Linked DNA regions of Homo sapiens. The protein of the gene in region 1 interacts with the protein of each later gene in a pairwise test. Each region holds a gene or a part of one and is shown in the gene's direction. Other genes may lie near its edges. The genes, in order: TEX11, NECAB2, USP15 and SOX5.

Region 1 (6,309 bases):
AATCTATGGAGAGCCTAAAAGGACAGGCATTTGTGCTCCAGAATACCTACGATTCAGTTAGAGATCTACGTGGCTGCCATATGTATTAAGATGTTGAGGACAGAGAAAACTGGTTTAAAATATGTGGCCCCAAAAACCATCAGAGCAAACACCTCAGTTTGCTGACATTGATTTGTATTACACGTAGGCAAGTCCATGTGGCTTTCAGGTCAGTAGCTGTGTGGATGCATTTCTTTATTGAGGATTAATGATTTTCATAAGCAATGCTGGGCATGAGGGCAACTAATGCAAATTAAAATAAAACTCGAGTGTTCCCTAACTCATTGGATGACACCATCATTCTTCTGGTTGCCCAAGCCAGACATCTAGGAGTCATCCTCAGCACCTCCCTCACTCCCACTTCTAATCTATCACCAAGTACTATCAATCAATTTGACCTCCCAAATATCTCTCAAATTCATCTACTTCCTCCTATCTTTCACCATCAGTAACCTAGTTCAAGTTACACACCTTTTATCTTAGCTAGTTTAGTGATCTCAGGAACCTTTTAACTGGCCTCACATCTACTCTTGCTTTCTTCCTTCCTTTCTTTGCCCAGCAACCAAGGTGATCTTTTACTTTTTTTTTTTTTTTTTTTTTTTTTTGAGATGGAGTCTCGCTCTGTCACCAGGCTGGAGTGCAGTGGTGCAATCTCGGCTCACTGCAACCTCTGCCTCCCAGGTTCAAGCGATTCCCCTGCCTCAGCCTCCCCAGTAGCTGGGACTACAGGCACCCGCCACCACGCCCAGCTAATTTTTGTATTTTTAGTAGAGATGAGGTTTCACCATGTTGGCCAGGATGGTCTCGATCTCTTGACCTCGTGATCCGCCCACCTCGGCCTCCCAAAGTCCTGGGATTACAGGTGTGATCCACCATGCCCAGCCAATCTTTTACATTTTTGAGTATGCATGACCTTTTGAAATCCTCTTTAGTAGTTTCCCATTGCTCTTAAAATAAAGACCAAAATCTTGAATGTGGTATACAAGATCCTACTAACCTATCTGTCCTCATCTTGAGCCACTCTTTCCCTCACATTCTGCACTGTCAGCCACACTTTACAAGACCACAAATTACCACCGTCTAGGCAAATATGATGGTCTCTTTTCCCTGGCCTTCGTTATTGACCACTGCCTCCTTATTGAAATTCTGTTTTCCTTTGTCCTTTATTTTCTCGCCACTCCTCTGCGTTCTTTTCCCTCTTACCACCCAACTATGAACATTTCCAATATTCTCTACTCTTTGCTACTCTGTATTCTGTACTCTGTCCTTTAAGTGAATTAATACACTTTAACTATTACCTGAGTTCCAATCCATATCTGCAACAGCCTGCTTATCTCCAGAGTTACCTCAAGCCAACTTGTTTAAAATAGAACTTATTGTTGTCCCTTATCCCCAGAAACATGTCCTTCAATTTTTTCTTTCAGTGATGCCAGCATTCTTTCAGCCATTCAAACTACATACCTTAGAGCCATTTTCACTTGACCTGTCATTCCCCATATCAAATCAGTTACCAAATTCTATTGATTCTTCCTTTAAATGATTCTTACATCCGTCCATCTAAATTGTCACTATTTTAGTTCTGACCCTCATCACTTCATTCTTAGATCACACAACTCCTTTTATTTTATTTTATTTTATTTTTATTTATTTATTTTTTTGAGACAGAATCTCGCCCTGTCGCCCAGGCTGGAGTGCAGTGGTGCGATCTTGGCTCACTTCAAGCTCCGCCTCCCAGGTTCACGCCATTCTCCTGCCTCAGCCTTCCGAGTAGCTGGGACTACAGGTGCCTGCCACCACGCCCGGCTAATGTTTTGTATTTTTAGTAGAGACAGGATTTCACCATGTTAGCCAAGATGTTCTTGATCTCCTGACCTCGTGATCTGCCTGCCTCGGCCTCCCAAAGTGCTGGGATTACAGGCACAAGCCACCACGCCGGGCCTTTATTTTATTTTTTGAGACGGAGTTTGGAGTTTCACTCTTGTTGCCCAGGCTGGAGTGCAATGGCACAATCTTGGCTCACCACAACCTCCGCCTCCTGGGTTCAAGCGATTCTCCTGCCTCAGCCTCCCGAGTAGCTGGGATTACAGGCATGTGCCATCACACCCAGCTATTTTGTATTTTTAGTAGAGACGGGGTTTCTCCATGTTGGTCAGGCTGGTCTCGAACTCCCGACCTCAGGTGATCTGCCCGCCTTGGCCTCCCAAAGTGCTGGGATTACAGGTGTGAGCCACTGCGCCAGGCCATAACTCCCTTTAAACACGTCTCCCTGTCTGTGTTTTCCCACACGGAGGTCTGTTCTAAACACCACTGGCATTTCTATCTTATTAAAACTACACTTTCATCATATCACTCTCCTTCTCAAAAAGTTTCAGTGCCTTCCCGTTGCCAGCAGGATAAATTTCAAAATCTGAAGCCTGTAATGCAAAAACCCTTAACACTCCAGCCCACAAGATGTTAGCAAACGTTCCACATACCCTGGATTAGACAAAGTTCCATGGTTTCTTTACTGTAAAACTTCCCTAAACTTTCAGTGAACTAGTGTGCATTATAATGCTCCAAAAGGGTGATATATAGAATGCGGCATTTCCAAAATGTATTTGACTAAAGAACTCTATTTTCATAGACCATCTGTTAACATTTCTCATGACACTAGTGTTCTGAGGAAGAACATTGAGGAAAGGCTTAGGAAGCTCCATCCTACATTTCCAGTCTTATTTCCCGTTAACTCCTCTACATAAATCGTCTGCTTAGGCCAAAGAACTCTTGGTCTTCCTAAGACATGCTTGTTCTCAAGTACAATCCAAGTCTTCATTTATTCTGTTCTACCCACATGGAATGCCCTTCTCTTTCTCTGAATATCTATATTTTTCTTTTTAATTGAGATTTAGTTCATATATCATAAAACTCACATTAAGGTATACAGTTCAGTGAGTTATAGTATATTCAAAAGATTGTGCAACCATCACCATTATCTAATTCTAGAACATTTTCATCATCCCCAAAAGAAACTCTATACCCATTAGCAGTCCTTCCCCATACCTCCCTTCCCCAGCCCCTGGCAACCACAAATCTCCTTTCTGTCTCTATGGCTTTGCCTATTCTGCACATTTCATATAATCTCTGTATATGTAGATCCTACTCATCTACCCTAAGATCATGTTTGTTTGTTTGTTTAAGTCATTTTTTTCATTCACAACATTAAAATCACAACACTCATACCCTGTATCAGACACTGTGCCAAGCAAAGGCAAATGTCATTTTACCTTCAAGGGGCTCCCTGCCTAGTGGGGGAGACAGGCAGTACAGTGTTCAAAGTACTATTATGGTGCTGTGAACAAAGTAGCAGAGGGGCAAAGAGGTTTGAGCAAGAAATTGTGGAGAGCCAGGGAAATCCTCACTGAGGAGGTGGCATCTGACTGGATATTGATTCATTTGTTCATTCATTCATTCAGCAAACATCTGTTGTGCCTCTTATGTGCCAGGCACAGTGCTGGACTCTGAAGATACAAAAATGCACAGGAAAAATTCCCTGTACCTCAAGGAACTCAATAGTCTGGAGGAGATAAATACATAGCATTTCAAAACAATATAACATAAGTTATATTAGAGGAATGGAAAGCTCACTGTGGGAACAGACAACTAACTGTTCTTGTGAATTTGAAGAAAAAGTATAAGTCTATGAAGTGGACAAGGATGAGGAGTAGTGTTTCAAGCAGAGACTAGACCGCCTCTGACTGGAATATCCTAGTGCTCATTTCTTTAACTGAATGAGAGCACCTAATGTTTGTGTCTCTTAATCACATACCTTGTGAAGTCGTCTTTACATGTGGATGCCTTGTGTCCCCAAAAGCATTGCACAACCTTTAGGATAAAAGTTTTGTCTTTTCCCTCTTAGTGCCCTCATTATCACAGTGTTTTATGTATAGTAATTTCTTTTTGGATCCAAATGAATGAAAGGATGACAGCTGAGACAGCATTCTTGACACTCTCAAAAAGCTGCTGCCTAATGTGTCTCCTATCACATTTCTCCCTTCTGGGGCTTTAACATGAATGCTTTCTTTGTGTTCCATCTCCTATGCAAGAACCAAGAAAGTAGCTTCTTAGACTAATACTTTTCACTATTGCAAAGTATTGTGAAGAAGCAAATATAATCTTGTGATTAGTCATGTTAAAGACCACTGATAAGGCTAAGGGACCATCTTAGAAATGTGTGCTGTGTTCATAGCTAGGTAGATATCGTTAACTCTGAAGATGAATATAATTTCTACTCCAAATATGGACTAATTCTGGTGACAGAAATTAAGAAATTCAATAAAACTGCTTCTTGACAACCTTATCCGAAAAGTAGAGGTAGGTATTAGGGAGGTAATTGACTGAAGACAGAATCAAGGGAAGCCCCAAACAGTATGCAAGTTTTTCTCGTGCCTCAGGAAGATTAGGAATCTTTCTAATTCTTTCCTTCAGTCAGAGAGGACCTCGGTTTACGTCTCTTCATGAGATCTTGCTATGGAACATTCTACAGCTGACAAACCTTCAAAGTGCTCTCCTCCTGCACTCTCCAGGAGCACAGACCTTCCTAAACATCAGCAGAGCTCCTATTGTTTGTTTAGTAATAAAGGGACATAGCATGGATACAGGTAGTGCCACAATGAACTGTGACAGTAATAACTGCAAAATTTCTGTTCTTGGATTATAGAAAGACTACCCAGAAATGGAGATTCTCTGGCTGATGGTCAAGTCCTGGAATACCGGAGTACTTATGTTTAGCAGGAGCAAGTATGCATCTGCTGAAAAGTGGTGTGGCCTGGCCTTGCGTTTCCTTAACCACCTTACCTCCTTCAAGGAAAGCTATGAAACTCAGGTAAGGAGGGAGAGGGCTAGGGCAGATGACATGACCTAGGGGGCAAGAGGTTATGGCTGGGCTCTCCACAAGGACTCAACCCCATCCTCCTTGGCTAGGAAAGGATCTTGCTCATTGTTCCTCTCAATGGTTCCACATAACTTCAAGAATCAGGAGACCATAAACAGTAATTCCTTAGAGCAAAAACCAAGAAGGACAGAGAACAGGGGGAAATTTAAGGATAGCAAATGGAATCTAATTAAGAGGAATGCCAAGAGTGAGCTCTGGAAAGATGCATCACTGTCAGTGCCAGTGCATGTGGGAAAGGACTGGCCTCTGCTCAAAGCAATAACTGTTGAAAAAGGCATTTTCTCCAGGAACTATTCTCAGTTGCAGAGTTCTGGGCCATTGGCTAACCAGGAGAGGTTTGGTAGAGAAAAAGCCTTGTTACCAAATAAGAGCAAAGGATATTTTATAGTTAAGTATCTTCTCCCTTATAATAGGGGATTCCTTTTCCTCAAGAGAGGACTGTATTTTCTCCCCAAATCTGAGATGCTTCAGATCTCCGAAGGTAACGGTTAGACTTTCATGCCATCACCGTGGGTCTGGGAAGCTTTCCCACATTTCTTTTTCCCCTCAAGAAATCTATTTGTTGTTCTCTTTCCCAGATGAATATGCTGTATAGTCAGCTTGTGGAAGCATTGAGTAACAACAAGGGCCCAGTTTTTCATGAACATGGCTACTGGAGCAAGTCAGATTAGGCAAGCTCATGGCCACATGAAGAAGATACATTGTCCCGAGATGCTGACTGTTTAAATTTTTGCCAGAGTTTCTCTTGAGCTTTTGTTTCTGTTTGCTCAGACCCTGTTTTCATGTTGTTGAATAAACTTTCTAAAATAAAAGCATGCTGAATTTACCTTGGTGACCAGCTCATTTCTGGGGGACAAATGAATTTTCCAAAGTGCTAAGGATGATATTGAAATAGACCATGTGAGAGCAAGATGGTTTATGCCCCATCTGAACAAAAGAGAATGTTCATCCCAGTTCAACACAGATTGCATTTTATTCCCAAAGTGCTCAAATTCCTAATCCCTGAAGATATCAAAGAATCCCAGACTCTTATTTGGAAGGACCTTAGTGGTCACCAGGGCCAGCATTTATCTGATTCATGAAATCTCTCTCTAACATCCTTGAGAATCTGTTGCCCAGTTTCTAACAGAACTTATTCCAGGCCAGGCGTAGTGGCTTGTGCCTGTAATCCCAGCACTTTGGGAGGCTGAGGTGGGCAGATCACTTGAGGCCAGGAGTTCAAGACCAGCCTGGCCAACATGGCAAAACTCCATCTCTACTAAAAATACAAAAAAAAAAAAAATAGCCAGGCATGGTGGCGCGTGCCTGTAGTCCCAGCTACTCGGGAGGCTGAGGCAGGA
Region 2 (7,037 bases), on another chromosome or scaffold:
TAGCAAGGTCTTAGCGCACAGGTGTCAACATTGGGCCTGGGAGGCTTTAAAAATGCTGAAATCAGAGTGGGCCTCACAGCAGCTGATTCAGTCACCCTGGGGTGTGGCCCGGGCTGAGGAGGTTTTGAAAGCTCTCCAGGCGATGGTGTTGGAAGGGGCGGAAAGCTGCCTTCGAGCCTCAGCCTGGCAAGCAGCACCTGCCAGCCAGACCTTGAGGAAAGGGGAGCAGCTCTGTCCCACGGATTCAGATGTCACTGGAAAGGCAGAACGAGGAGGCACCTGGTCTTGTAGGTTCAGGCCAGCCTTGGAGCTGCCCTCCACCCATCCCTGCCTAATGCAGCCGGAACTTCGTCTGCGGCTGCTTTTCTGAACTCTTGGCGTCCTGTTTCTCCTCCTGCACCCCAAAATTAACGCAGTCCTGCCCGTGGCTGGCATTGTCACCAGGCCTTGCAAACACCTCTGTCGGACTTTGCCCAACCTCCCTGGAAACACACCAGGGGTTTTGGAAGGACTGCAGTGGTAAAGGTTGTGGCGCTCCCTGGGACACTGATTCGGAGTGTGGTTGTGTGCAGCTGAGCGTTTGGCGGTGGGTGAAGCCACGTGGACTGATGACTGTGGACCTACACCTGCAGGGATGGCCGTGGGCCTGCGTGTGTGTGTCAGCGTGGCTGGGAGCAGGCTGGTGGTACTGGCAGCCGCTTCCACGTGGGTGAGGGGAGGGCCTCTGTCTGCAACATCCCTCATCAGTTCCCCCTGGATCCCAGCCCGGGGAGGGGGAGAGGGAAGGGGGGCTCAGCTTCCCAGGACCCTAAGCTGCTCCTGGGAGAAGAGAAGGATCCCAGTATCCGGTCAGAGGCTGCAGGAAGCGCTTGCCTCTCCCTGGCCCAGGGCTGACTCCGCCTCTCTTTTCTGCAGATTTTCCGCCGTGCGGACAAAAATGGTGAGTTTCCCTTCCAGGCCGACGGCCGCCCCACTCCTTCTGTCCTCGTGCTTCATGGGGAAGGGATCAGGGATAGGAGACAAGCGCAACCTTGAACCTAAAGGTTTGGAGTGCAGGGGTCTGAAGTTAGAAGGCCAAATCCTGCTGCTGCTCTGTGCCTTGACCTCCCTGTCTGTAAAACGGGAATCCTAGTAGGGCCTACTTAGTAGGGACAGCTCCACTCAAGGGCTCAGTGAGTCTTGTCTGTGATGCCAAGAACAATGACTGGCCGTGGTAAGGGCTGGGTGTACTTTAGGCCTTTTCCTAGCTGGGCTGGACCAGAGGAGCCCGGGCTGGGGCCCAGAAACCCTCCTTGAAAGGAAGCCGCCAGCCTCACGCTAGGCCCTTCACAAGCCTTGGTGCAGTTCTTCATCGTAGCAACCTGAGCAGTCAGTGCTCTTGCCTCTGTTGACACCATAGCAGCCCAGAGAGGTTAAGCAATTTGCCCCAGGGTTGCCCAGCTGCATGAAGGAAACGGAGGCTCTCCTGAAGACCGGGGCCCTTTTCCCTTTCTCTCTCAGCCTCTTTAAAAATGTGAGCAGCGCCTTGTTGTGGCCACGGAATTCATAGCGCTCCACTTCTCCCGACTCCTTGGAGGGGCTTCACTTGCAGAAGGAGCCCAGGCCTTGAGAGAATAAGCACGTTTAGGCGGCCCAGCTGAGCCTCGGCTGACAAAAAGCACCTTCTTAAAAATACCAGAATCATTATTACAGTTGCAACGCAACTCACCGTGGACTTGAACCAAGACAGATTCCCTCTCTGGGCCTTGGTTTTCCCGTGGGTAAAGTGGGGCAATAACACTTGCCCTGCCTCCTTCCCTGGGTTTTGGGGAAAAGCCAGAGAGGCGGTGTGGGTGACAAATGTTTTTAAAGAGAATCGCGTGCTCCCGGTATGTTCATTCATTGAGAAAATGCACATCAAGTACCAAGCCTGTGGCAGGGGAAGAGCACGCAACAGAGACCCTGTGACCTGCCCCAGGGCCCTTGGTCCCCAACGCCTCTGGCCCCGGTTCCTCTCCTGCACAAGCTGCAGTTGAGGGTGGCAGCTCTGGCCTGGGTCTCCAGCACCCGCCTCATCCCTGGGAGTTCCTGTTGACGGCTCCCACCCAGGGCGGTTGCAGGGTGGAGTTGGAGGCCTTGGGCATGGTGGGAGGGCAGGTGCACAGGCCTGGGCTGGAATCAGTTCCAACGAGTCTCCCACCCTGGCCTCCTGCATCCCTGGGGGGTGACAGTGACCACTCCCAGGCCTCTGGGGAAGAAGGACCATCAGCAGTGATTCCATACGGAGCAGAGGAGGAATAAGAGGGACGTAGGGAGATGAAGTGGCTCTGGAAAAACAGCCGTAGCATCATGGCCTGAAAAGCCTTGGAGATGAGGAGGGGAAATCAGGGGGCTGTCCCTGAGATGGGGTCGCCGGAGCCCTCAGCGTCATTGCCTGTGTGCTGGCCTGGCTCCTCCAGCAGGTTGAGAGGTAGGGATTTGGGTTTGTCCCTTGTCCCGGGCCTGATACCCAGCACACAGTAGGTCCTCGGTAAATGTCTGTAGACTTGGTGGACGTGTTTGTTGGTGAGAGCGTGGCTGTGCGTATCTCGGTGACTCAGCAGCGTGAGGCTGTTGGGAATGCGTGTGTCCAGCGTGGGCCTCTAGCCATGGCTGTGCATCCCGAGTGTGTGTGCAGTTAGTGTGCGTGTGTGGCTTCCTGAGTGTGCAGCTCTGCAGGAGCCACTGCAGTGTATACACTTGGGCAGGTGGTGCCTGGCCCCCTCGGGCACAGATGGGGTTCTGTCCTTGCTGCAGGCTCCCCCCATCAGAGGCCATGTGTCCACCCCCTGAGCACAGCTGTGGGACTCTCAGTTTCCTTACTGCAGCCTCCTCAAAGGCCGAGCCTGTTCCTTCTCCTTGGGGCTTACATCTTACCAGCCACCACTATGTGACCGTTAGGGGCTGTCACCAGGGTGAATGTGGGTGTGAGATGCGGGTTCCAGCAAGAGCTTCCCAGGTCCCCCAGCCTGACTGCCTAGGCTCAAGTCCTGGCTCAGCCGCGTACCGGCTCTGGCCTCAGGCAAGTCACCAAATTCTGCAGTCTCAGTTTCCTTATCTGTAAATGGGAATAATTACAGCACCCACCTCAGAGGGCTGTCTGAGGATAGATAGTTGCTCTCCTGGCTTCGCTCATTGAAGATATCAATAAGTCCCCGCTGCTCTGCCTCAAATGCCTCGGAAATGGGAGTCCGCAGGTGTGGCTTGTCCAGAGGGGTTTGATTCCTCTGTGCTCAGCAGGGAATTCGGTCTGGGGGAGGCTGCCAGCAGTCACTGAACGTCTGTTATGCACCAGGACTTGAATGTGCTTTTTCCTTTAATCTTCATTGTGATCCTCCTGAGACAAGAAGTATCAACCCCCACCCTCCTTCCAGATGACGAAAACAAGGCTCGGAGATGGCACGTGATATTCTTCACATGGTCGGGGGGCAGCGGTGCAGGCAGGTTCTGATTCAACACAGCAGCTTAAAAGCTTGTAGGAGTGGGGATGGGACTTGGTGTGGGTATAGATAGGGGAGTGGTGTGGGAATAGAATGGCTGGGGAAAGAGGAATGAGTGTAGGGGTGAGAATAGGTGTCAAGGAGGTGTGGATCCAAGAATGAGAGCAGGTGTGCAGGGAGGTGTGGGTGCAGGGATGAGAGCAGGTGTGCAGGGAGGCGTGGGTGCGGGGATGGGAACAGGTGTGCAGGGAGGTGTGGGTGCAGGGATGGGAACAGGTGTGCAGGGAGGTGTGGGTGCGGGAATGTGAACCGGTGTGCAGGGATGAGAGCAGGTGTGCAGGGAGGTGTGCAGGGATGAGAGCAGGTGTGCAGGGAGGTGTGGGTGCAGGGATGAGAACAGGTGTGCAGGGATGAGAGCAGGTGTGCAGGGAGGTGTGCAGGGATGAGAGCAGGTGTGCAGGGAGGTGTGGGTGCAGGGATGGGAACAGGTGTGCAGGGAGGTGTTGGTGCGGGGATGGGAACAGGTGTGCAGGGAGGTGTTGGTGCGGGAATGTGAACCGGTGTGCAGGGAGGCGTGGGTGCGGGGATGGGAACAGGTGTGCAGGGATGAGAGCAGGTGTGCAGGGAGGTGTGGGTGCGGGGATGGGAACAGGTGTGCAGGGATGAGAACAGGTGTGCAGGGGGTGCAGATGTGGAGGCCGATAGGCCCACAAGCACACACAGGACTGCTCAACACTGACGCTAGCCCTGCCTCACGTGTCCACAGGAAGGATGGATGGGATGCCTCAGGGGAGCGGGAGATGGGGTGCAAACTCAAAGGACCCCCCAGGCTGCCCTTAGGACTTAGAGATTACAGGAACAAAGGCTCAGGGCTGCCCTGTCAGGGTGGCTCCTGTGACAGAGACTTGTTTGGCTGAGCTGGATACCGGATGCCCAGTCCCTATGGGAAGGTTAGCATGAGGGGCCTGACTGGCAGCCTGGGACATAAACTCAGGGGGTGGCAGAGGGCTGAGTGGCAGACAGCATTTCCCTTCAGGGACATGGACGCTGACAGGCTGACAGGCTCTTGGCATTTGAAAGGTCATGGAGACAGAGAGTGAGTTTGTGCTAATTAGCAAAGACACCTGCAAACGGCCCGCTTGGGGTCTCTGGCAAAAGTGCCAGCGCGGGCCCGCTTGGCCTGTCTAATTGGACTGGGGGCCTACGTAGGGCATGTTTTTTCCTCATTAGTGAATTCATTAGGGCCGTGATCAGGCGTTCAGGATAAATGTCAGCCGAAAGCTTAGTGAGGGGGCACCTTGCTGGCCTCTGTCTGCCTGCTCTCCCTGTGTGCCGAGGGGGCACCTTGCTGGTCTCTGGCTGCCTGCTCTCCCTGTGTGCAGAGGGGGCCCAAGGTACCTGGACAGGCACGTGGGGAGATGAGCCAGCCAGAGGGAGGCTGGGATTGGGGCTCACAACCCCTGTCATGCCCATGGTGACTGCCCCTCACCCAAAGTGGGGGTGCCTGAGCCAGCACCCACCCCCTGCTGGGTAGGTGGCGATGTCGCCACAAGATCCTACCCCTGGATTAGGTTGAGAGCCTGGACTTGGGAGCCAGATGGCCTGGGTTCAAGCTTCAGCTGTAGGACCTAGGCAAGTACCCTAAGGGCTCTGTGCCTCAGTTTACCCCTCTCTAACATGGAAGTGGTAGTACTACCTGTGTCGTGAGTGTTAAGAAGACTAAAGGAGTGAGTCCGTGGAAGGTACTCCACGTGTGGTGTGACTCCACACTGGGATTCCTGGGTTTTATCTTCAGGCTTGCCGAAGACACTCGGAAGGCATCCTCTGTCACAGAACACAGAAAGCAACAACTTCGATTTCACTTATCTCGTGGCTGACTTTGCGGACTTTTAGTTGTTAGGTTTTGGGTCTTTGGTTTGTGCATGTGTGGTTGGATTGGGGTTTTTTTGGCCTTTCCTTTGAAAGACAGAAATTCTTCCCACTGTAACCTTGAAATCTGAGCTGCGATGGGGGCATCTTGGGATATTGGCCCTAGCCCCCCGTGCCCACACGTTCATATTCTTTACCGGTCTCTGATACTTTATGCTCTATGGGGTTAAAGAGAAAAGTGGTGGCATGAAACCTTGGCAAGATCTGAGGACCCCCCCTCTCCTGAGCTTATGCTCTCACCCTGTGTTGAGCTCCAGCAGAGCTGCTGGGAGCACAGACAGAAGCACTGGAGCCTTTAAAGTTTAAGAATGACTCATTCTCAACCCAAGTACGTCTGCCATGTCGGGTTAGGCAGGTTGTGCGCTGCACAAGGGCACCCACCCGAGGAAATGGAGGGTTTCAAATCCAGGCTGCAATCCGCTTTCAACACATGTGCACTGACACTGGTCTCATCCTCTCGGCAGAGAAAGGAGAGTCTTTTTCTAATCCATAGGAAGGTGCCATGTGGACTCTCAGGGCCCTTGTCCCAAGCACCCAGCTTTGAATGCAGATCCTCTGGAAGTAATGCCAGGGGTTTATGCAGAGAGGCTGGGGGCCAGGAACTGTCATGGGCTCCCTCTTGTCTCTGACCTCCATGCCACTCACATAGTTTCTCTTAAGGAGGAACAGATCCTTGAGGAGGGGGGAGGTGGCTGCAGGGCAGGTGGGGGATGAGCTTGCTGGCATTTGCTCAGCAGGTCTGTTCAGGTGGAAGGAGCTGAGGGTGGAAGCTTAGGGACCGCCTCCCAGAGTCCCTGATGTTCTTAAGCCACCTCCCCTGGTGGCCCAATCTGATCCAAACCCACAAGACCTTCCTGGTAGGGCCAAAAGTGTCCCCAGAGCAACTGCAAGTGAAGGGAAAAGGTGAGGCGATGGGTGGGACTGGTGGCATGTGTCCCACCCATCCCTCCACAGAGCCCCTCCACAGAGGAGCTGTGGAGGCCCCTCTGTGGAGCTCCACCTCAGAAGCACAGCCTCTGGCCAGAGCGTTGGCACCTCCAGGCCTGGCACCTCCTTCCTGCATGGCTTGGCATCTAGATGGCTGCATCTGTGGCCTGGGAGAGGAGGTAACTGAGAACCTCATGCCGGCCATTGGCAGCCATCTCATGCTGCCTCAGGGAAGGACCTGAAGTTTGCCACATAGATGGGGCGGAGAAGAAAGGGTTCTTCTGTACTCTAAGAACAGTGCTGAGAGAGTCAGGGCTTAGGGGCTGGGATTGGGGTTGGGAGCATGCAGAGACCACTTGGCGTTTGGAAGCTATGGAGTGGTGGCTCATCCAGCTGCTGGTTTTTGGATCCACTTCATACCGATGGTGTGACATGGGACAAGTTGCTCACAGTGGGTTATCTTAAATAGCACCTGCCTCCAGGTGGCCATGTAAATTGAGAGAAAATTCACTGGCAGGGGGCAGATACTCTATATTTGTTGAACGCATGGAAAATGTTGAGTGCATGGTGAGCCCAAGAAAGCTAGCTATTGCATTATTGTTAGTTTGAGGATTATCTGTAAACAGGCATTGGTCTGGGAATTAGCTGGATGAGGCATGATTCTCTGTGTACTGGAGTTTACTGGTTAGTGTGGGAATTAGCTGGGTGGGTAGGGATTATCTA
Region 3 (7,037 bases), on another chromosome or scaffold:
TGCAGATAATGACTGTCTCATGGTAACTCGGGTAACTAACTTCCATACCTAGGCAAGTATAAAGATTTATTTCATTCTGTGTAAGTACTACAGTTTCTCTTTATTTGTAAGCAGTGAATGATTTTTATCTAAAAACTGATTTTCTAGAGATGAAAATAAGTTACACAAGTGTGAGATGAAGAGAAACATACTTTATGATGTATTTAGTTCTAGACTTTATATTGAGAAGTAAATCAAAATTAATACGAGAGTAATACCTTTTTAAAAAGCAAGAAGAAGGTAGCACTGATTTGTATAAGGAATAAAGCAGTCTCAAAATGATATTTGTTGATCTGTGTTTCAATTTCAACAAGAGATCAGAAAAACACGAACAAAATTTAGAGTTTAGGAACTATAGGAAAGAGATAAATGAACTAGAATTGTATCGCTTAGGATGAATTAAAAACAATTTTCAGATACATGGTGGTTTCTTCTGATGAGACAAAAAGATAATTTGCTTAAGGTACATATGAGTATTTTAGGAACATATTTAAGGAATGGTAGTTAATGAGTTACAAAGAAAATTATGGGTTATAAAATACTCTCTTTGGAAAAAAAGTTTTTGAAACAGAGTCTCGCTGTGTCGCCCAGGCTAGAGTACAGTGCGTGGTCTCGGCTCACCGCAACCACCTCCAGGGTTCAAGTGATCCTCCCACCTCAGCCTCCGCAGTAGCTGGGCCTGCAGGCACATGCCACCACGCCCAGCTAATTTTTTATTTTTAGTAGAGACAGGGTTTCCCCATGTTACCCGGGTTGGTCTCGAACTCCTGGCCTCAAGTGATCTGCCTACCTTGGCCTCCCAGAGGGCCGGGATTACAGGTGTGAACCACCTGCAAAATTTCTGGCCTGGAAATTTTTAAAGAAATGGGCCTATTATGAGTAAGTAAAACATAACCACAAATCATCCAAAGCACTGCTTCGTTTCCACCATTTTTATTAAATGTTATTCATCTGCCAATCATTTTCAGTAATTTTTATGTGTGATTATGTTAAGTGGTAATGTGTAGTTAACTTTTGCAGTTTAGCAAAACATTGCATGCCATTTTTGTATAAACCCTAATAACTGTAGTAGGTAACTTTACAGAGTAAGTAATTTGTGTGTGAAGTCATTTAAAATCTCTGTGACATTTTCATTTCAATAATTGCCAAAGAATCTGATCAGTGAAGTTTTAGACAAGAGACATTGATTTCAGTTTTTAGAGCTTTCTGTCCATTCCGACTTTTACTTAGAAATCTTTGAGGCTTAATTTTATTTGATCCCTTATGTTCGTGCAACTTTGAAACTAAAAGAAAATAACCTTATACTCACAAATCCCTTAATAATGAAAAGGAACACTATTACTCAACATGAATTTCAAAATATTTAGTGTATACTTAAAGAAATTTTTATATTACTATTACTTTTAAAATTAGTTTCAGTAGTGCCAGGGTGTTTACGACCAGAGTAGGGTATATACTACATCATTTATAGGAAATGAAACTAAAAGGAAAAACTTCTTCAGTCTTGGTAAATTGGTGAAAACAAGGACAGAGATAGTGACCTTAAGGCATGTTTCACATCTTAGATGCTTAAAAATCTAGGAAAGCAACTTTTCTTAATTTAAGCCTTTTTCGTAAGTTTTTAAATGACTTCTGTTAGTGAGTCCAGGGTTAATGTACCCTAATAGTCCAGGAAGGTCCAGAGCTAGTCAATGATTTCGTTTATCTGTTTTGTGAAATTAAGGCTTTTTTTCCTAAATTATACCATTTTCCTGTTAGCACATATAAGGCATTAAATGACCTTTTTGCAAAATGGTTTTGTGACAGTTAACAATTTTGCTTCTACGTAAGTGTAACAAGATAAAATCAGTTTGTCAGGCCATGACCTGTAATATTACATTTAAAAACACTATGTGCCAGGTACTGTTATAAATGCATATTGACTTATTTACTCATCACCATATTACCACAATTCTGGGAATCGGTGTTATTCACATTTGACAAAATAGGAATCATAGGCTCAAAAAGGTTTTCACATAGTGGTATAGCTGGGATTTGAACCCAAGTAGTTTAGGTCTTTGGTTTGTGCCCTTAAAGCACTGTACCACATTGCCTCTGATTTTATTTAAAAAAATTTTTTCTAGAGACAGAGTCTCGCTTCATCACCCAGGCTGGAGTGTAGTGGCATAGTCATAGCTCACTGTAGCTTCAAACTCCTTGGCTCAAGCAATTTTCCTGCCTCAGCCTCTGAAATAGCTGGAACTACAGGTGTGCGCCACCACACCCAGCTAATTTTTAAAGTTTTTGTGGAGACGGGATCTTACTGTGTTGCCTAGACTGGTTTGAAACTCCTGACCTCAAATGATCCTCTGACTTCAGCCTCGCAAGTATTAATAGCTGGGATTACAGGTGTGAACCCCTATGCCCAGCCTCTGTCTCTTATTTTAAAGATTCATTTTTTAAAAAGTAGATTCACTTTAAAAAGAAAAGAACCTATTTTTCTTTTTAAAGGAAGTCTATTTTATATTTAGTAGCAGAATTCTACCATTTGCCTCTTGTGACTGTTCAGTTTAGATATGATAGAACATGTAGGAAATCTTAACACCTTGCTTCTGGATATTAAAACATGCTTAAAGATTGATAGGTGAATAATTGAATGTACAGAGCAAATGTCATTTTGATCCACAAGTACATTCAGACAAAAAAATTTGAGGTCATTTACTATTGAGCTTTTGAATTTTAATTGTCTATCAATAATCATAAGCTCTTATTAGAGATGATATGGCCCCTTCACATATAGTTTTACAGAAATAACCCATGAAGCATATAGTAAGATCTTGTAGGCTATTTTGTTTCGGTACTTGGTCCATATTTTAAAAGTATGGTATTGGTTTACTATAAGCCACAAATACATACGGCTTTCTTCTTGGACTTAAATCCATATGAACCACTCAGCACAGAAAATGCAAATATGAATGCATTATTATGTTCACCAACTGATTTTTTCCCTAGAGATAACTCTTAAAGAATTTTTGAAGTGAAAGAACATTTAAATTAAGATAGTGGAAGATACAATGATAATAAAACAGTCAATTTTGCTATCTTAGTCTTGAATTTATCTTATGATGTGAGTTTAGAGTGATTCTTCTTTTTTTCACTGAAAATCACTTCATTAATAAGTCATGATTATTGACAAAAGTAAATTGAAACCATTGGGCATATTGGTAGGGAAATAAGGGGAAGATAGAGAACAACTGATAAAGGTTGATTATGTGCATTACGAGATTTGATCCTCAAAAGAAGGACCAAAATATATATATTTATATGACTTATAGATGAGGAATCTGAGAGAAATTAATTTGCTTGCTCATAGTTTACTACCAGCGGACATTTATTAAATGCTTAGTCTGTCGCAGCCACTATTTTAAATGCTTTACACTTACATAGCCTTTAAAGTACATGCTCTTATTACACTTCATTTTATCTTTGATGATTTCAGAGCTGGTTTAAATACCTGGTTTATAAAGATTTAAAGTACTAGATACTATCTAATACTAAGAATAGATCCTTAGTATTAAAAATGGTTTTATGCTGTCACTACTCGAATGTAATTCAAACAATATTTCATTAAACCATGGGAATTTCTCTTTTTTCTTAGTCCTTGTATAGAATTTTTCAACAATTACTAAATACTTTTTTTCTTCCCTGAGTAATGTCAGTCTAGCTTGTTTCTTTTAATTTCCTCACTTACCACTGTAATTCACATTCTGTGTCTCATATTCATTCCTCTGAAGCCACTTCGCCAGACTCGTTCTCCCATTTATCCTTTAAACAGGGGAATGTAGATCCTTTAGATTTTATCACCCAGTTTACACAAAAGTCACTATTCAAGAAATCTAGCATAAGCCTAGTAAGTAGCCTCAGTTTTGGATACAGATTAAAATTATTTGAGGGAAGGGTCAAAAATGGCTCCTTACAAAGAAGGAAATAAGTTCCAATTATAATATAAAACAGAAAACCCCTGTAGGATTAACCTGCATTTGATTATGTCTAGACTGCCTTTACTACTTCCATCACTAAGATTCTACATGGTTTCCTTATAGCTCTCCAAAAAGAAAAGAGTAATGATGCCTTTTTTTCCTCCAAGGAATGGAGAACTAAGAATGCTAACTGTCCCTTCCATTCTCCCTTTAGTTTTGAGAAGACCCAGATATTAGCGTGGTAATTCCCCACCATAAGAGAAAATCATTTAGCAGAAGTACCAGTAGCAAGGACTTCTTTGTGAAGGAAGTCAAAGATCTCACAAAGAAGTTCAAGGGTGGCTCTGAGGCCAGGGTATTCTAAGTTTAGAGCCAGTTAAATCAAGACCTGAGAACATTTAGAGACAAAGTTACTTAACTGAAAAGAGCATCAAGTTCCTTGTTCCAGGTAGAAAACACCTGGTAATCTGGATTGATTTCTGTTATTTACCCATATGTTTTTACAGCTTAACAAAGTTTAACAGGTTAGTCAAGAGATTTGCCTTTGATAAAAAGATGGGAAATTTATATTCATACATTTGAATGGATTTCAAGCTGAAGAACTTTTTAATTCTCAGGAGAGATGTAGCTAAGTATTTATATGTACCACATAGTTGTGGCTATGGTTTACAATAACTTATTACTCATTTACTATGTTAAGAGCATTTTAAAAGTTCTCTAGATACAGGTTCCATATATAATGTAATATATTTATTCCAAATATATTACATATATGAAATACATGGTAGTATTCTCATTTTACCAGTACAGAAACTGGGATAGTTAAATGTATATGGTCATAACACTTAGTCAGTGGTAGAGCAGGAGGTCTAACTTAAAGCTTGCATTTTAAATTCTAAGTGTACTGCCTGCCTATGTGTGATAGAGCCATACCCAGATTATGGAAGCAACTTTTTGAAAGACAAATACTTGAAAGTATTAAAATCAAGAAATGACAGCTTTGTAATACTTGTTAAACACATTTTCATTTGTTATTAATATCAAGAGCCTCTAGAATTTTGTGAGTCTTCTTGTTTTAGCCTTGTAGTCTCAGCAGTCTCATTTCTAATTAACATATCTCTGTTTTGATACAGATAGTGTCTCCCATTTCCTGCAAATTATTTGCTTTTTCCTGCTTTTGGGGCCTTTATGCCCCATTTCTGTTGTTTCAGATACTTCTTAAAAATTACTGACTTTCATTTCAAAACCTAGTTCAAAGTCAGTCTCTAAAACCACCTCTAATCTCATCCAAATTTGTGGCCCCTCCATTCTTTGCTTTTAAAATATATATGTATATATAAAACAGCTTTATTGTGATGCTATTCACATACCTTACAATTTGCCCACTTAAAGTGGACAGTTCACTGGGTTTTAGTATACTCGAAAGAGTTGTGCAGCCATGACCATAATCAATTTTGGAATCCAAAAAGGAACCTCATACCCATTAATAGTCACCTCCCATTTCTCTCCCAAACTCCTCTGTTCTAGGCAGCTACTAATCTATTTTCTGTCTTTATATATTTGCCTATTCTGGATATTTTATATAAATGGAATCGTATAGTATGTGCGATTTTTGCATCTTGCTTCTTTTACTTAGCATACATGTTTTCTAGGTTCATGCATGTTATAGCATATATCAATGTTTATTTTTACTGCTGAATGATACAGTCATGAGTCACTTAATGACAAGGATAACTTCTGAGAAATGTATGGTTAGGCAATTTTGTCGTTGTGTGAACATCTTAAGGGGGTACTTACACAAATCTAGATGGGATTGCCTACTACATACCTAGGATGTATTGCCTATTGCTCCTAGGCAAAAAAAACCTGTACAACATGTTACTGTAGTGCATACTGTAGTCAATTCTAATACAATGGTAAGTATATATATATGTGTGTGTGTATAAATATATATATGTGTGTGTGTGTATATATATATATCTAAACATAGAAAAGGTAGAGTAAAAATACAATATTATGATCTTTTTTGTTTTTAGAGACAGGGTCTGGCTCTGTCACCCAGACTGAAATGCAGTAGCCCAATATTGGCTCACATTGCCCTTGATCTCCTGGGCTCAAGCAATTCCACTGCCTCATCCTCCCAATTAGCTAGGACTACAGGCAAGCACCACTGTGTCTATTTTTTATTTTTATTTTTTTGTAGAAATGAGGATCTTGCTGTGTTGCCCAGGCTGGTCTTGAACTCCTGGCCTCAAGCACTCCTCCCACCTTAGTCTTCCAAAGTGTTGGGATTATAGGCATGAGCCACTGTGTCTAGCCAGACATAATGTGTCTGTTATTGACCTAAATGTTGTTATGTGGTATGTGACCATATTCCATTGTATAGATATAACACATTTGATATATCCATTTATCAATTGATAGACATTTGAATTTCCAATTTTTGCCTATTTTGAATAATCCTGCTATGAACATCCATTACAAGTTTTCATTTCTCGTGTATATACCTGTAAGTGGAATTGCTAGGTCCCTGTTTAACTTTTTAAGGAACTGCTAGACTGTTTTTCTAAGTGGCCGTAATTTTACATTGCCACCAGCAGTGTATGAGGGTTCCAGTTTTTTCACCTCGTCAGCACTTATGTTCTTTTTTTTAATATATAGCCATCTTAGTGGATATGAAGTAGTATCTCATTGTAGTTTTGATTTGCATTTTCTTGATAGGTAATGATGTTGAGTATCTTTTCACCTGCTTATTGGCCATTTGTATGTCTTTTGGATGTCTGTCCAGATTCTTTGCCCATTTAAAAAATTTGGTTATTTTGTCTTTTTATTATTGCATTGTAAAAGTTCTCTAGATACAGGTTCCTTATTAAATAGTTAATTTACAAATTTTTCTCCCATTCTGTGGATTTTCTTTTTACTTTCTTGGTAGTGTCCACTGAAACATGGAAGTTTTTATTTTATTGAAATTCAATTTGCCTGTTTTTTCCTTTGTCACTTTTGCTTTTGGTATCATGTCTAAGAAGGCTTGGCTTAACT
Region 4 (4,704 bases), on another chromosome or scaffold:
TACTTCTCTCCACCTTCTCCATCTCTCTACTTTAAAGATGGAAGTCTGTGCATGAGGGGAAAGAGGGAAAAAGAGCCTGTTTTTAACTTCCTTGCTATCCACCACAAAATAAGCAATTATTTTCTTTAGAGGACTTTATCTATTGCACACCACACTACATCTTTGAGCAAGTGCCAAATTTGTACTGAAGTGTTGACCAAGTTCATTTTTTCTCTTTACTTTTTCCTTTTCCTTCTTAAGTTAGGACAGTGTTAAATCTTAGACAATCCCTTGAAAAACCTGAAATACCAGCAGCTGGTGAGATTTGACTTTTTTTTTTAATGGAAACTGTAGGTGCTGTTCTCAGGTGAAAAGAGAGAGAGAGAGAGAGACATAAGAAATTTAGAGAAAAATATTTTCTGATCTTGGATTTTTGTGTGTATGTATGTATGTGATTATGGTACTAATAATAGGAATAACGTTGGACCATTGTGAGTTAAACCCACATCTGGGGATGAAATCCCACATCCTCCCAAGTGACTGGTCTAGAAATAATCTTGACCTTGACTTTGCACTTCAAATGACAACTTAACCAAGTATAGGGCTCAGAAATTATATTTTTAAATGTCTGATTATTATTGGATGGATCAGGTGGCCCTGTGTAATAGAGGTGTGCATGTATAACATGGAAGCTACTAGCAAACTGCTCCCAGATGTCCTTTCTCCCTGGTCAGTTGGTTCCATTAACGTTTGCTACTTAGTGATTTTTGTTTTTCCTGTTGATATTTTGAGCAAAACAATCATTGTTTTCATTGAATATATTTGGCCATTTTTTCAGACAAATAGAATTAGCTTATTTCTTCAACATTCCATCCTTTCCCGATCAGGAAATGAAACTGATGATTTTATAAGGTATTTTTCACCCCTCCATGAAGTGAGGTGGAGGCCTTTAGCATTTCAGAAGTGTGGGCCATATGTAGTTCATGCCATAAAAAGTAGGATTTAATTAAAAGTCATTGCAGCCCAATAAAATGGAGCCTGGCTGCACCCAGGGATCCTTGCCACTGCTCTTCCCTTGCTGTCAGATTAATCCACTGAAGTCCAACTTTGGTTCAAGCAGAGTATTTGCAAAGAGCAACAACTGAATGTGATGGGACTGCTTATGTAGATTTTGCCAGCCAAATGCCAAGGCAGTTGTAGGGCCTGTACAAATAAATGCAAAATCATTTCAAGTCAATTGCCATTATTTGTATTGAAGTATCAGATAGATAGTAAATACTGCAACTAGTAGCTTGATGTGCTATAGTTTTCACTCCAGTCATCATTTTCCTATCTCACCCCCCGAAACACCACCCTAAAGTTGGATTTTTACATATAAATAAAAAAAGAATCCCTTTTATTTTTCTCTCTCTCAGAAGACTTGCTCTGGGGTTTTGCTTGGAGGAGCTGATCATATCCTGCATGTCAGAGATTTCATTTTGTTTGTTTTTCTGTTTGTTTGTTTTTGATGACTTTATTTACATTTGAACTGCCTCTTTTTGCTAGTGTTGTAATGATGATGATGATAAAATAATAATAATAATAGTAATAATAATAATAATGGTCAGCTGTTCCCAGATTAGTAAGTTATGTATAATTTATTTTATTTCTCCCTTTCTATTTTATTCTGCTCTGATTTGGAAGTGCAGCCAATAAGCTGTTAGATATTTAAAACAAATTTCCATCTCCAACTCATATATGTATGTATATGTATATATATATATACATATATATACACACATATACACACACACACACACATTTACCCACAATTTTACTTCTCTTTCCGTAAGTTTTCTCTTTTTTAAGAATTTTGGCCCCAACAATATCAGTTCTGATGTTTAAAACAAAGGAGTGAATTAATAGGAGGGTCGTGTTCAATCTTAATTAACTTATGCTCTCATCACTCATTTTAGTTATTTAATTGCCACAGTCATCTAGAGCCAATTTTTTTTTGTTTTTGTTTGTTTTGTTTTTAAGCACTCTGGATAAGGAAAAAATAGACACTTGTTTTTATATCATTTTTATGTACAATGTGAAAACAGATTTTTAAAAAATTTGTTCTCTGTCTTTGTTAACAAATTCCTTCCGATTTATGTGGGTTCACCTCTCACGTTTGCTGGATACTTACTTTACACCATGTTATGAAAGATGCTTTGTTTTCATTTCATGAGTTTGGGCTACAAGAATACTTTGTTTTAGCTCCAGGTAGATGCCATTGAAGGCATTCATGGCTGAAATCAATTCTAACACACTTACCGATGAATTGACAACACTTTGGTGTTTGGTCTTTTTTTTGTTATATTTTGTTTTATTTGAAGGGGAAAACAAAATTGTTAATGGTGACTTTTAACTGCTGAAATTCAAAATTTGATTTTAGTTAGGTTTATGTCCGAGACTAAACTGTGCATGAACCGAAACAAAAAGCAAGTTCATACCGCTGCATTCTGTTCTCTTGTTCTGACGGTTAATTCACTGGACATCAAATTTTCTTTGCCCTAGTTTTCCCCAAAAGAAAACAAAAGCAAAAATAGTTATATTAATGTTGAAAGTGCTTTGAAGTCACTTGATAAAAGGTGCTATGAATAGCAACTTACTGTGTTACTACATTGCCTTTTTGGCATTGGTTGATTTATAATTTTGGTAAAGGATCCTAAAACCCTGTATTCTTTTTCTGTGCCCCATAATGACCAAAAAAGATAAAGAAAATGAGAGTAAGATCAAAAGATCAAACTAAAACATAAACAGTCTCCTTCCTGTCTGCTTTCTTACCTATCTGTTCACACTTTATCTCTTTCCCTTTCTCTCTCTCTCTCACATGCGCGCGCGCGCGCGCGCACACACACACACACACACACTTGCCCCAACACTGAGAAATAATCTTGCCAGAATTCTGGTTTTTATAGTTGTTGTAGTCCGTTTCTCTAAAAATAGTCCTGTTTTCATATGAATCTAAGAGAACATTACCGGAGAAAATAAAGTTACTCATTTATAGTTACTAATAATAAGTTAGTGATTAACTTACCACAATTGGATAAAATATAAAACTATTCTTCAGCACATTTATACCTAAATTAGTGAAGTCCATTTGTGAAGTTCATTTGGCATCTGCAGTTAAGAGTTAACCATGTATAAAATCCCTCCCAAAGAACATAATCATCGTTAGAACCAAATCCTCTTATAAAGAACAAATATAAAAAAGTTTTCTGTGGTGAAGCTATTTTATAGATTTGATTTCCGGAGTAGAATTTTACCTTAATTCACTTAAAGAAAATTAACCATTTTTTGGTCCAACTTCAGATATTTTCTTAATCCAGAAGCTGTGACTGTTCCCAGAAGAAACCTCTTATATCACATTTAAAACATAAAAAATAATTACACTTTCACTCATTCTAATGGGTAAATTGTTGAATTGTAATAAACAACTGTATATTTACAAACAGGTTTATAAGGTATTTGTCTATCAAATTAATAATAAAATAAAACTTACGGGGTCTGCAAGGAAAACTATGAAGGCCACTTAAAGTGGTTCAGGTATCCCTTTGTCTTGTAGGGCATAGCTGTTGGTTTAGCCAGGCTTTTACAGTATTTAATTTTAAAGTATCCTATAACTATCAACTTCCCAGGTTGAAGACGATGTGTTGAGTTTCCTACTGATTGATTGATTCCTGTCCTCCCCAGTGTTTCCGTCACTGGTTCACTAAAACAGTATTTATATAGCTCCACTGGCTCTAAAGCTCTTAGTCCTTCTAATATTTTGGATTTTACAAGTAAAAATGGAAAAAAAATAGAAAAGAGACAATCAAATGCCTGGAGCTTAAAACAAAGTATGTGCAACCTACCATCTCACTTGAAATTTAATAAAATAATAAGTAATTATGTAAATATAACATAGAGTTATAGATTTATATTTTGTTCATAACACATAGTGTAATATAAGTTGTATATTTTCATGTTTTTGGTTTTATGTTATCATTCATGCCACAATAAAAATAAAACAGGAGTTTATGTGCTCTTAAAAAAAAGATGTGGGTTGCCACCAACCTGTTTTTCGTTTTTGTTTTTTGTTTATTTTATTTTATTTTTTTGCATTCTCCTTTTTCAGTATTACTGCCATGCAAGGCACCAATAAAAACAGCAAATGTGTTCTTTACTTATTATACTGTGTTTCTTTTCACAATTATTGTTATGAGGGTGTAATTAGTTTTATTATGAAAAGAACAAAAGTATGGAAATTTAATTTTGTTTTTAATATAAATAATCCCTCTTATTGAAGTTGACTTTAAGAACTAAAGGTTTAATTTTTAGCTGTGGACATTCCCAGAAAGACAGTCAGGACTTGATATAATGCATTTCACTCAGACAGATCTAGCTTCACCATACTGTCAAAAGATACTGTTCTTATATGTAATTGATTCAACACAATTGAAAACCCAACAGTCTAAAGCACCTTTAATATTGTTGTTTTCCCTGGCTGGACACTATCCTTGGGTGGGGGATGGGGGGTTTCTATGCTTTAGAATTGTGCTTTATCCTTTCGTTTGTATAGAAGATTTATAAATTTCAGATCATGAAATTACTAAGAACTATGAATAATTTTCACCTCGCTGGTATCTCATTTTGAATAATGGATATTTCTGAATTGTTTAACATTAGCCTCTCAGTTCTACCTTAAACTTTTTTAGT

Evidence for each region.
Region 2: the proteins of TEX11 (region 1) and NECAB2 interact in binary tests that used the Homo sapiens proteins (3 or more experiments, as listed by UniProt).
Region 3: the proteins of TEX11 (region 1) and USP15 interact in binary tests that used the Homo sapiens proteins (3 or more experiments, as listed by UniProt).
Region 4: the proteins of TEX11 (region 1) and SOX5 interact in binary tests that used the Homo sapiens proteins (3 or more experiments, as listed by UniProt).

What each region holds. Positions count from the first base shown.
Region 1 is NC_000023.11:70,528,426-70,534,734, reverse strand, and holds the end of TEX11 (testis-expressed protein 11), read left to right. Parts: intron 1-4,735; coding exon 4,736-4,900; intron 4,901-5,547; coding exon 5,548-5,640; 3' UTR 5,641-5,795; downstream 5,796-6,309. UniProt on the Homo sapiens protein: Regulator of crossing-over during meiosis. Involved in initiation and/or maintenance of chromosome synapsis and formation of crossovers.
Region 2 is NC_000016.10:83,971,236-83,978,272, forward strand, and holds part of NECAB2 (N-terminal EF-hand calcium-binding protein 2), read left to right. Parts: intron 1-915; coding exon 916-940; intron 941-7,037. UniProt on the Homo sapiens protein: May act as a signaling scaffold protein that senses intracellular calcium.
Region 3 is NC_000012.12:62,263,404-62,270,440, forward strand, and holds part of USP15 (ubiquitin carboxyl-terminal hydrolase 15), read left to right. Parts: intron 1-7,037. UniProt on the Homo sapiens protein: Hydrolase that removes conjugated ubiquitin from target proteins and regulates various pathways such as the TGF-beta receptor signaling, NF-kappa-B and RNF41/NRDP1-PRKN pathways.
Region 4 is NC_000012.12:23,528,971-23,533,674, reverse strand, and holds the end of SOX5 (transcription factor SOX-5), read left to right. Parts: 3' UTR 1-4,171; downstream 4,172-4,704.